Linked DNA regions of Homo sapiens. The protein of the gene in region 1 purifies or fractionates together with the protein of each later gene. This does not show direct contact. Each region holds a gene or a part of one and is shown in the gene's direction. Other genes may lie near its edges.

The links.
Region 2: the proteins of HGSNAT (region 1) and MCAM fractionate together in Homo sapiens (co-fractionation; one large-scale study listed by BioGRID). This does not show direct contact.
Region 3: the proteins of HGSNAT (region 1) and TRABD purify together in Homo sapiens (affinity purification with mass spectrometry, with the first as the bait; one large-scale study listed by BioGRID). This does not show direct contact.

The regions. Positions count from the first base shown.
Region 1 is NC_000008.11:43,143,322-43,146,963, forward strand, and holds part of HGSNAT (heparan-alpha-glucosaminide N-acetyltransferase isoform 1 precursor), read left to right. Parts: intron 1-3,626; coding exon 3,627-3,642. UniProt on the Homo sapiens protein: Lysosomal acetyltransferase that acetylates the non-reducing terminal alpha-glucosamine residue of intralysosomal heparin or heparan sulfate, converting it into a substrate for luminal alpha-N-acetyl glucosaminidase.
Region 2 is NC_000011.10:119,314,255-119,318,518, reverse strand, and holds the start of MCAM (cell surface glycoprotein MUC18 precursor), read left to right. Parts: upstream 1-1,388; 5' UTR 1,389-1,417; coding exon 1,418-1,484; intron 1,485-3,255; coding exon 3,256-3,380; intron 3,381-3,478; coding exon 3,479-3,686; intron 3,687-3,769; coding exon 3,770-3,840; intron 3,841-3,942; coding exon 3,943-4,030; intron 4,031-4,264. UniProt on the Homo sapiens protein: Plays a role in cell adhesion, and in cohesion of the endothelial monolayer at intercellular junctions in vascular tissue.
Region 3 is NC_000022.11:50,188,803-50,192,444, forward strand, and holds part of TRABD (traB domain-containing protein), read left to right. Parts: intron 1-1,784; exon of another isoform or gene 1,785-1,994; intron 1,995-3,642.

The DNA.
Region 1 (3,642 bases):
GCTAACATATGAGGGAAACATGGAAAGGCTAATCTGGCTGGGCTTATAGGGAGGGATCTGTTGAGGCTCAGGAGACTGGTTAGCCGTTATGTGCACAGTTAGACTGACCTCAGCTTAAATCCTGGCTGCTAGTAGGTGACTTTGGGCAAGCTGCTTGACCTCTTCAGGCCTCAGATGCCTCATCCCAAAATGGAGACACCAGGAGCTATTTCTTTCTTTCTTTTTTTTTTTTTTGAGACAGAGTCTCGCTCTGTCGCCCAGGCTGGAGTGCAGTGGTGCGAACTCAGCTCACTGCAAGCTCCGCCTCCTGGGTTCACACCATTCTCCTGACTCAGCCTCCCGAGTAGCTGGGACTATAGGCACCCACCATCACGCCTGGCTAATTTTTTTTTTTTTTGTATTTTTTAGTAGAGATGGGGTTTCACCGTGTTAGCCAGGATGGTCTCAATCCCCTGACCTCATGATCCACCCTCCTTAGCCTCCCAAACTGCTGGGATTACAGGTGTGAGCCACCGTGCCTGGCCCACCAGGAGCTATTTCATAGGGCTCTTGGGGCCTGGTGGTTCTTTGGTAAGTGTGGTTCTTTGTATTACCTGGGAGATCTCAACCATCACAGTTGTCATTAGAAATCAGCACAACTGAATTGGAGAGAAATTTTGTAATGCATATCAGAAGCTATTCAAAAGCCTGTTTTTGGTTAAAGATTTTACTCTTGGGCCCGGTGTGGTGGCTCACGCCTGTAGTCCTAGCACTTTTGGGAGGTCGAGGTGGGCAGATCACTTGACCCCAGGAAGTTGAGACCAGCCTAGGTAACATGGTGAAACCCTGTGTCTACAAAAAAAGACAAAAAAAAATTAGCTGGATGTGCTGGCATGCCCCTGTAGTCCCAGCTACTTGGGAGGCTGAGGTGGGAGGATTGCTTGAACTCAGGAGGTTGAGGCTGCAGTGGGCCGAGATCTTGCCACTGCACTCCAGCCTGGGAGACAGAGCGAGACTCTGTCTCAAAAAAAAAAAAAAAAAAATTTTAACTGGATGTTCCCGATCCTGAAGAGGCTCTGTTGGTCTCTGCATTGGTTGGATGTGGCCTGGATCACTGTAATGTCTATGTGTTGAGCACTTGTTTCTGTGCCAGCCACTTTGTAGATGGTCAAGTTTAGATTTCCCAACGGTTTCATGAGGCACATACTCTTATGACCCTTAATTTATTGGTGAGGAAACTGAGGCAAGTTGGGCTTCAGATTCAAGTTTAACTTGAATTTATCCCACTATGTCATACTCCAGGTCCCAAACATCGCTTCCACTGAAAGCTTTCCAGGAGACCAAAGAACAGAAAAAATGATTGTGAAAGCTTTCTTTGGCCTAGAGAACCAAAAGCTATAGTGGATTATTATTATTATTATTATTTTGCTGAAAGCTTTATTTGTTCTCACTTAGGGTAAATGAAAAATTTCAAGATTTGGCTACAACTTCATTCTTTGAAAAGTAATGTTTTACAGAAAGAGAGGTTAGGGGTACTGGCTCTGAAGACAAAGCTTAGATTCAAGCCCAGCTTCACCACTTACACCAGTCCCCTGATTTTGCCGTTTCCTTGTGATATAAGGCACTCAGGAACACAAGCCAGGCACACAGTAAGTGTTCAGGAAGTGCTGGCATTATGAAGTTCAAACAGCACCACTGGTAAATGAAGTTCAGATTTCAGAGGTGGAGACTGTGTATGCAGCCTCACAGCTAAGTGGATGCCATGGTGAAATGTTTAGATCATAGGCCTTTGAGAAGAATTATCAGAATGTTAGAGGAATGGGCCTCCCTTGGCACCCAGAAATAAACGTTAAAGGAGGCTATTTCATCATATAACAACTTCCGAACTTCTAGAAAAGTGAAAAGAGAGGCTTGGGTAAGGAAGATGAAAGCCCTCCCACCACCCTGCGTGCTGACCTAGGGCATCCTTCCTTCTACTCTGTTGTTAGATCCTCATGATGGCCAAAAAAAAGCATTCTTTAACCTAAAGCATCCCCATGGCTCAATCTCTACCCCTTCATCACCAAGGAAAAGCCAGCTCTAGTGGATTAAGAGTTTTATACTGCAGGGCTTGTCTTCACTGAGAGCTAAATAAGGGTAAAGTAAGATAAACTTAAAAATGAGGGATTGAGGCCCGGCACAGTGGCTCATGCCTATAATCCCAGCACTTTGGGAGGCCGAGGCAGGCAGATCACGAGGTCAAGAGATCGAGACCATCCTGGCCAATGTGGTGAAACCCCGTCACTACTAAAAATACAAAAATTAGCTGGGTTTGGTGGTGCGTGCCTGTAGTCCCAGCTACTCAGGAGGCTGAGGCAGGAGAATGGCTTGAACCCGAGTGGTAGAGGTTGCAGTGAGCCGAGATCGCGCCACTGCACTCCAGCCTGGGTGACAGAGCAAGACTCCATTTAAAAAAAAAAGAAAGAAAGAGGGATTGAGCTGGCTACGTGAAGAATTCATGATTCTGCCATTCAAATGAGTGACTAGGGAGCCCAGAGGAAGCTTTCCCATTACAAAATAGAGACCGAGTTCTTACCTTCCTCATTGTGTTATTAAGTAGTTCCCCATTTTTTTCTTTTGGGTAAATTTACTCAGAGGATAAATTAACTTCTCTTTTATATAATATCATATAAATGGCCCAGTTGGTTGACATGAACCACTCTGCTTTGACTTTTAGACAAGAGCAGTTCACTTTATTTTTCCTACCAAATTGGCACACGTGATTTTAGAATGTGCGTCATCTTTCTGTCATCCTCAGCACATCATCTAGTGAACTGGTGAGCTGTGTGAGTTTCTGGATTGGGGCATGCTCCCAATCCAGGATTCACTGCTCCCAATCCAGGAGCAGTGAGTTTCTCTGCCCTTCAGACTGAGGCTTGTCTTAAAACTGTCTGCTTACCCCTCTCCGATCTGCCATGGAAATTAGGATATTCCAAACTCCAAAACAAAGTGATAGAAAGCAGCACTTCTCAAACTTTCAAGACACGTGCACCCCGCCCCTGGGCCTCGCTAACCTGTCTGACTCAAGCAGGTTCTGCATTTCTAACAAGCTGCCTGGCTACAATCGCAGCTCAGTAACGTGGTAGGGGAGAAAGCTTGAACTTTAGAGTAATACAAATTGGGTTCATATCAATTATTTCATTGAAAAACCGTGGTCACAGGCAGTTATCTAATTCTTGAGAGGCTTAATTTATTCATCTGTAAAGTGGGGAAAATACCTAGCTCATAAGATTGTCATTATTATAGGGAAACTACTAAATTCAGTACATGTCACATCTTAGCACTCGATGAATATAAGTTCCTTACACGATCCTTTGATGCACTAGATTTGAGTGGTGTTGACTGAATCCTCTTGTAGTAGAGACATCTGTGCAAAAGGAGACCTGTGTGTGTGCACATGCATGCATGTGTGTGTGTGCACATGCATGCATGCACGCACATATATCTGCGCATACACAAAGTAATGTGTGAGAGACCCCAGAAATCCCAGAGTGTAAGCTTTTGAGAAGCACTACTGGAAGCAACTGTTCACACGAATGTACTTTGTCTCTAACACATCTTTCGGGTGCCTTTTTTTTTTTTTTTTAACTTTTCCTAATTTCTACCAGACTTAGACAAAAAAAG
Region 2 (4,264 bases), on another chromosome or scaffold:
CTCTGCACAGCCTCTGGCTGGAGACTAATGGCATTGGAGGAGGGGTCGAGAAGGCTCTGAAAGACAAGCCTGGTGTGGTTTTCCAGTCATCTCTGCGTCATCAAAACGCCACCCCGGAGCATGCTCTCAAGTCACCTGGCCATCTCCAGGGTTTGCTGGCTCACCCTCCACCTCCCCCAGCGAGCAAAGGGGTGGCCCCGCTGGGCAACAGACCTCTACCCAAATCCAGGCCCCTATTTGGCACTCCCTGGTGGAGGCGCGCCAGCAGATGTGGACCCCTTTTCTGAGGCCAGGCTGCTGGGGTCAGAGTGAGGCAAGAGCACCTCCCCCTCCCTAGAGCCTTAGTTCAAGAGGCCAGAAGACCCAGGGAGAAGCCGGCGTTTTGGGAGAAGGGGAGCTGCAGAGCTCCCCACCCAAGCAGGTCTGATTTGATTCTTCCCTCAGCTATGGACCCACAATCAATAGGGCTGGGGAAGACATGGGGTGGGGGAAGATCAGCGCTGCCGGGATCCTTTCAATCATCAGGAACAGCAACAGGTTTGCAGGGTCAGGCTGGGGACCCTCGCCCATTAACTCTTTCTTCTCCCTGTTTCTTTCTCTTAGGTGAGGGGAAACTGAGTTCCAGGGTAGGCTCCAGAGTGAAGAGGGAAGAAACATGATTCTCAAGGCCCAGGTCTGGACAAGTGTGAACACCTTGGGCCTGCGAATTCAGCCCCCTCCTTCCTTTCTCTGGTCAAAGGCTAGACTTGCAGGAGCTTGCGTTTGAAGGGACAGCCCAGAAGGCATCGTCTGCACTCCCCATACAGGTACTTCTGGGTCTGTGGGACTGGCGCAGGGTTCTTCTCCCAAAGCTGCCAGCACTGAGGCTGAGGCAGTGTCAGGCCGGCGGCAGCGGCAGTGGTGCAATCGTTCTGGGAAGCGATAGAGGCCGGCCTGAATTCTCTGTGGCAAGGGAGGGGAGCCCAAGTGGGAGGCCCCTTGGGGACACCGAGGACCAGGTCCGCTACTGCTCCTCCCCCAGGAGGTCCCCTAGGGGCTACATTGGCTGGCAGGGGCTGAGCAGCGGTGAGCCTGGCTGGCTTCGACCCGGGGCGACTCCGGGCATCCGGGACAGCTTCTCCTCGCTGCCACCTCGGCCAGTCAGACCCCGAGACACCTGTCACTACCCCCTCAGCCTTCCCAAGCCAGGAGCCTGGGAGTCCGGCTCTGGCCTACCTCCGGCAGCGCTCCTAGGCGCAGCTCCCGGGCTGGCGGCGCCGGGGCCCGCCCCCTAGGGCTGCGGCGCGCGGGGCGGGGGCTGGGGGCTGCGCGGGGCGGGGCGGGCCCGGGCGCTCCGGGCCCCCTCCCCCGCCCCCCTGACGTCAGCCCCCGGCAGCCTCGAGCTGCTCACTTGGCTCTCGCCCTCCGGCCGGGAAGCATGGGGCTTCCCAGGCTGGTCTGCGCCTTCTTGCTCGCCGCCTGCTGCTGCTGTCCTCGCGTCGCGGGTGAGTTCGCTCGCAGGGGGGCCGCGCCCCGGCTAGGGGTCTGCGGTGGAGCGTGCCAGGGAGCAGAGCCAGCGGCGCGGCGGGGTCGGGGCGTTGCGTCTGGGAGGACGAGCCTCCTCCCTGGGTCCCCGATCCCCGGGCGCCTTGCGCGCGAGCAACTCTTCTTTGCAGCCAGTTTGCAGCCGGGATTCTAGAGTATCCCGGGAGCAGCACTCGGAAGGCGGGGAGGAGGCTGCTTCTGGGAACGAGAAGGGGTGGAGCTCAGCCTTTCGGGGTGCTGGGGGGTGGGTGGTCCCTGAGGTGCTCACTCTGGGGGCCCGCAATTGAAGCCGGGCAGGAGGCGCAGCTGGGGCGCATCCTCAAAGCCTGAATTCCGCGCCCGCCTGTTGCTGGAAAAGGCAGCTTCCTTCGCTGGAGGGGGTGCGCCGACCCACCCCTTCCCCCTTCTGCCTGGGCATCACGCCAGGCTGGAGGTGAGCGAGAGCGGGAGGTTCGGCGGCTCCCGCCCGAGCTGGGCGTTGGCAGGGGTTGCGGGGCGGTGTGGGTCGCCTCGCGCCTCCCCGAGTGATGGGATCATAGGGGACAGAGATGAGGGATGGAGGATTCCCATACTGGAAGCGCCCGCTGGCTTATTTTGGGGACCACATTCAGGTGGGAAGTGCGCCCGGGCACCTCGGAGCGTTTCTCCGGATCCGCCTGGTAGCAGGGCGCTCTCGGGTCCACGCTGCCCTTGTATGGCCCGCAGCGGTGTCGCGTGTTTCTCTTGGCTCCCATTCCGCCGTCCCAGCCGCTGTCCGGCTGGGGAAGGGGAGGGCTAGGCAATACCCAGCTCGCTGGCCTCATGCCCAGTGCCAACCATGTCCCTGGGGTATTCCAGGCTACTGCCTCCCAGGCTGACTTTATTTCTGGGGAAAGGGCTAAATCGGGCTCCACAGTTGCAGCCGGTCCAGCTCCACCCTGCCCTGCTCTTCTAGCTCTGGGAGGAGTCAGGGGTCTGAGGCTCTGGGTTGGAGACCCCACCTTCCACCTGCCCTCCTTGTCCGAGAGCCAAGGTAACAACCCAGGCATCCCAGAGCCCAGGCAGATGGTGTCGAGTGACATCACCTCCTCACAGGGCTGGCAGCACGCTGGCACCACTGACGTCACTCCTGCCCACTGCCTGGCCCTTGCCCTGACCCCTGGGGGAGACTCTGACCTCTCCATCCTTACCAGCTACCTAGGGTGGGGTCCGCGGGTGTGTGCGGAGTGTTCATGGAGGTGCTGCTGAGGGAGCATGAGACCGGAACTTCCGCCAGAGTTAGCCCGCTGGGGAGTGAGGGCAGGGATTTTGGAGGGCAGAGGATAGAGCAGTGGTGTCTTCCCCTGGCGGTGGTGACACAAAAGGGCCTGTGTGCCCCAGCCTGGCACATGCTTTGCATTCCCACACTCTGAGCTCACCCGGAGAGGAGGGGGCCTGGAAGGAAAGGGGCCTTCCTCTTGGCCCCGAGCCTAGGTTGCCCCTTTCTGCCCCTCTACCAGCCTCAGCTGGAGCTGTTCGGTGCTCAGTCTCTGCTCAATCTCTGCTTGGCTCCAAGGACCTGGGATCTCCTGGACGGGGAGAGGGCTGGCCCAGGTGGGGCGCGGGTCGGGGTGGGGGTAGAGCGTTCAGAGGACAGGGCCCTCTGCAGACCCTCTGAGTGGCAGGAAAAACAGCTGCAGCAGCGCTGCGAGGGGAGGGGCGGACAGCAGCCGGAGCTGACACAGCTGCGGGGGCCCCGCCTCCCTCCCCCAGGTGTGCCCGGAGAGGCTGAGCAGCCTGCGCCTGAGCTGGTGGAGGTGGAAGTGGGCAGCACAGCCCTTCTGAAGTGCGGCCTCTCCCAGTCCCAAGGCAACCTCAGCCATGTCGACTGGTTTTCTGTGAGTGCTTGGGCTCCTGCAAGAGCAGCCCGGGGAGGGAGACTCTGCCCCTCTTGTAGCCCAGGACCCTTCTCCTCCTCTGTGTCTCCTCCCATTAGGTCCACAAGGAGAAGCGGACGCTCATCTTCCGTGTGCGCCAGGGCCAGGGCCAGAGCGAACCTGGGGAGTACGAGCAGCGGCTCAGCCTCCAGGACAGAGGGGCTACTCTGGCCCTGACTCAAGTCACCCCCCAAGACGAGCGCATCTTCTTGTGCCAGGGCAAGCGCCCTCGGTCCCAGGAGTACCGCATCCAGCTCCGCGTCTACAGTGCGTGACCCTGTGTCTGCCAGCAGGGTAGTGAGGGTGGTGGGACGTGGCCAGATGTCCCCCTCATTTCTATTTTCTTGTAGAAGCTCCGGAGGAGCCAAACATCCAGGTCAACCCCCTGGGCATCCCTGTGAACAGTAAGGAGCCTGAGGAGGTGAGATGTGTGGCAGGTGGGCTGGGCAGCTGGTGCGCAGCCGCTGAGATGGGGCTTGAAGGGGGCTCGGAGGCAGGGAGACTCACACCCTGTGCTCTTTAGGTCGCTACCTGTGTAGGGAGGAACGGGTACCCCATTCCTCAAGTCATCTGGTACAAGAATGGCCGGCCTCTGAAGGAGGAGAAGAACCGTGAGTAGCCCTTTCTCCCAAAAGCCACCCTTGGGCCAGGTGTGGTAGCTCACACCTGTAATCTCGGTGCTTTGGGAGGCCAAGGCAGGAGGATCTCTGGAGGTGAGGAGTTCAGGACCACCTTGGACAACATAGGGTGACCCTGTCTCTACAGAAAATAAAAAAATTAGCCAGGCATGGTGGTGTGTGCCTGTGGTCCCAGATACTTGGGAGGCTGAGGCAGGAGGATCATAT
Region 3 (3,642 bases), on another chromosome or scaffold:
CCCTGCGGGACATTTCGGATGCAGACAGCCGTCTCTGACGCCAAAGGACTGTAGATGCCGCTCTGATTTTGTGTCCTAGGGCCGCACACCTCAGGCAGAGCCCTAACGGATGGGCTTTTGCGCACAACAGATGTCCTCCTGGGGCTGTTGGGAATTCTCAGAGGCTTCGTCTGCACAGAGGATCATGGTTTCCAAAGCCAGATATCCCTTTTTACAGATGAGGGACAGTGCTTGGAGAACAAGTGTCTTCAGAGGCAGTGTCTAGGGTCTCCTGAAATCGGGCTGCTAAGTCTTTTCTTGCCCTGTGGGTCTCCACCCCGTTCTCTGCCTTCGGGACAGACTGTGCTGCGGCAGAGAAGCTCGAGGCCGAGGCTGACCGCTAAAGCAGCATCTGAATGTGGCTTGTGCTTGCAGCCCAGAGAGGGCCTCCTGTGTGGGGCAGGTGGGATGCTGGCCCTGGAGGCAGGTTCCCGCCTTAAACGGCGGCTCCTGCCCAGAGCATCCTGCCCAGGGTAGCACTGGGGTCTGAGATCTGAGGACCCTGTCTGCCGGCTACCCATGCTCAGGAGGCATGTCCCACAAATCGTGTTCAGCACCCACCCCAGTCCTGCTCGGTGGACGTCCGTGCGGGGCAGGGAGAGTGAAGCACAGCTGGTCTGATACAAGCGTCTGGCTTCCTGCCAGGCTGCACCGCTTCCCAGCGGGTTGGCCTTGCAGGTAACAAGGCCAGAAGCCACTGCGAGGTTCCCTGGGGCAGTGCCAGCACTGGGGATTTGGGAAGGAGAGATGTCTGTCCCCCCGGAGGGGCAGCCAGGGTCTGCTGGTCTCTGCTGATGGGCCTGAGCGTATCTGAAAAGGACAGGTAGAAAGGGGGTGGCTGCAGCGTGCGCTGGCCGGACCCCAGGTGATGCTCTGCTGGGACCCAGAGGGGGTGGCTGCAGTGTGTGCTGGCCGGACCCCAGGTGATGCTCTGCTGGGACCCAGAGGGGGTGGCTGCAGTGTGTGCTGGCCGGACCCCAGGTGATGCTCTGCTGGGACCCAGAGGTTGTGGGGCTGGGAACCAGGTGGGGGTTCTTCAGACATTGTCTCTGAAGACACTTCAGAGTCCAGGCTCAGCATCTGTGGCTTTTGGGCCAGGGCCTTTTGCTCACCGCCAGGCAGCTGGGAGAGGCTCTGGGCCCAGCCATAAATGTCTGAGAGCACAGCTGCCTGGGAGCAGACTAGAGGGAGGAGGGCTGGTAACCTGAAATCACACCCTAGAGCTCTCCAGGGGCCTTGGCGAGGAGGGAAAGAGAGTGTTGAGACTGTAAGAGTGACTGTCAGAGACGTCCCCCAGAATCACGGGCTTTAGGTGCTGGGGGGTCCTCAGTGACCTTCCCGCCTGGCTCCCTGCGGGCAGCACGCCTCTGCTGAGAGGCTGCAGGGGCCAGGGCTGGGGGCTGGCACTGCCTCTGGTGGCGCTGACATCGTCCTGCTCAAGGCTTGGCAGCCGGCCCAGGAAAGCTTCTCTGCCCTCCCTGACAGGAGACCTGTGCACGCCCACCCCATGGCACGACTGGGGTCAGGACCAGCGCCTGCTGCTGCACCGAGACCCTGCCCTGTCCATGGCCACAGGCGTACCCTAGGCCGGCCTCAGAGGCGGGTCTGGCCAGGCTGGGTGGAGGGTGGGGGCTGACCGCAGACCTGGGGCTGCCACACCCATGGGGGAAGGGCTGTGGCGACGTGGGCGCCTCCTGTTGGCTGGGCCGACGCAGCCTCCCGCCCGGCTGCACAGGAGTTTCTTTAAGGAGTTTCCCCGGTGTGCCTCGGCAGCCTTGCGCTGCTCTAATGGTCCGGACTTCCGTGTGTGAGTTTCCCCCGTGCGCCCCGGCAGTCTTGCGCTGCTCCTAAGAGTTCTGGCTTGTGTGTGTAGCTAGACCCAGGGAGGCGGCCGTCTCCCGGACCGGGTGCTTGTCTGGGCTGGCTGGCCTGGCGGCTGCTCACAACAGCTTCCGGTGGGTTCCGGTCGGGTTGCATCGTGGAGCTTTCACCTACAAAAGGGGAAGGAGGCGGCCCAAGGGTCCGGGGCCTGGTCCTGCTGTGACCGGTGCCAGCTGCACTTCCTGGATGTGCCAACCGCTAAGACGCCCAGGCCAGGGTTGGGTCCAGACTCAAGCCCAGGTGGCAAGGAGTGGGACCCCCTGCCAAGGCTGTGAGGCCCCATAGGGGAGCCTGCCTGTGGAGCGGGCCCCCCTTGCCCTCTGCAGAGGCTCAAGGCCCCCGGGGACATGAGCCTGGTGTTTATCAGCTGTCTCCTTAGTCTCAGCTGACCTCCCCCGACCATGGCCCCATTGCACCACCCACCCCAAGCCAGGCCAGTTCCTCTCCCAGAAGTCCCGGCTGTCCAAGAAGAGGGCAGGGTGGGCTGCCCTCTTCTCGGCCAGCTTCAGATGGGGCCTCTGGTTGCACTGAGACAGGCCTCTTCCCCTGCTCAGAGCCGTCCCTGCTCCCCCAGCCCCTGAGCTGCCCTCCTAGACACTGCACAGAGAGCTCCTTCCTGTTCACAGGTTAGGACACCCAAGCTTGGAGGCATCTTAACTTGGATGTGGGTGGCCAGGACCCAGCTGGGTCTGTGAGTCCTGGCTGGGGCCGAGGTCTGTGCCTGCTGTGGCTGTGTGCCAACAGGGTTTGCAGAGGAAAGGAACCTGACATAGCGTCTTATTGCTCATTGTTCCTTTTTCTTATGAGTTCTGAGAAGTGGGCAGCAGTAGTGACATGAAAATGACCCCAGATGCACGCAGGCATCAGTGCAGAACCCGGCAGTGGCCCCTCTGAAGCACATCCTACAAGCCCCGTCGTTTCCTCGCCAGATGCTCGTGTCTGACTGACGCAGACGCTTCAAGACAAAACCACAATACCTTGCACGACTAGACAGCTCAGAATGGTTTCCAACGGCTCATTTTTATTTTTTACTTTTGTTTTTTTCTTGAGACAGAGTCTCCCTCTGTCACCCAGGTTGGAGTGCAGTGACAGGATCTCGGCTCACTGCAACCTCAGCCTCTCGGGTTCAAAGTGATTCTCCTGCCTCAGCCTCCCCAGTAGCTGGGATTACGGGTGTGCACCACCACGCCTGGCTAATTTGTGTATTTTTGGTAGAGATGGGGTTTCACCAGGATGGTCTATGTTGGCCAGGCTGGTCTCGAACTCCTGAGCTCAGGCAGTCCATCCACCTTGGCCCCCCAAAGTGCTGGGATTACAGGTGTGAGCCACCGCGCCTGGCCTGTTTGGGATATTTTAATGATTCTGCCTGGTGACACATCCATCCGCCAGGACATGCATGAGCCATTAACTTGGTAAACAGTCACTCCTGGCATTCCGTGGCTGAGAACATTCAGGAAGAGCCACATGGTGCAGCAGGGCCTGTGGCCAGTCTCAGGACAGCCTGCTGGTCCCTGGCCCCGCCTCGAGGGGCTCCGCGCAGGTCTCGCCGATGCTCTGTGGGTCTTGGCCGGTGCGTGCCTCTGGTGCTGCAGGCGCCTGGCTGTTTTCTTCCTTCCCTCAGGCTCCTGGGCCCCCGGCCTGAGCTCCTGGTTTCTGAGAGTCTGTGGGGAGCTGTGATGCCTCGGGGCAGCCCCCTCGTGTGGCTGCCCCAGCCTGTCCGGG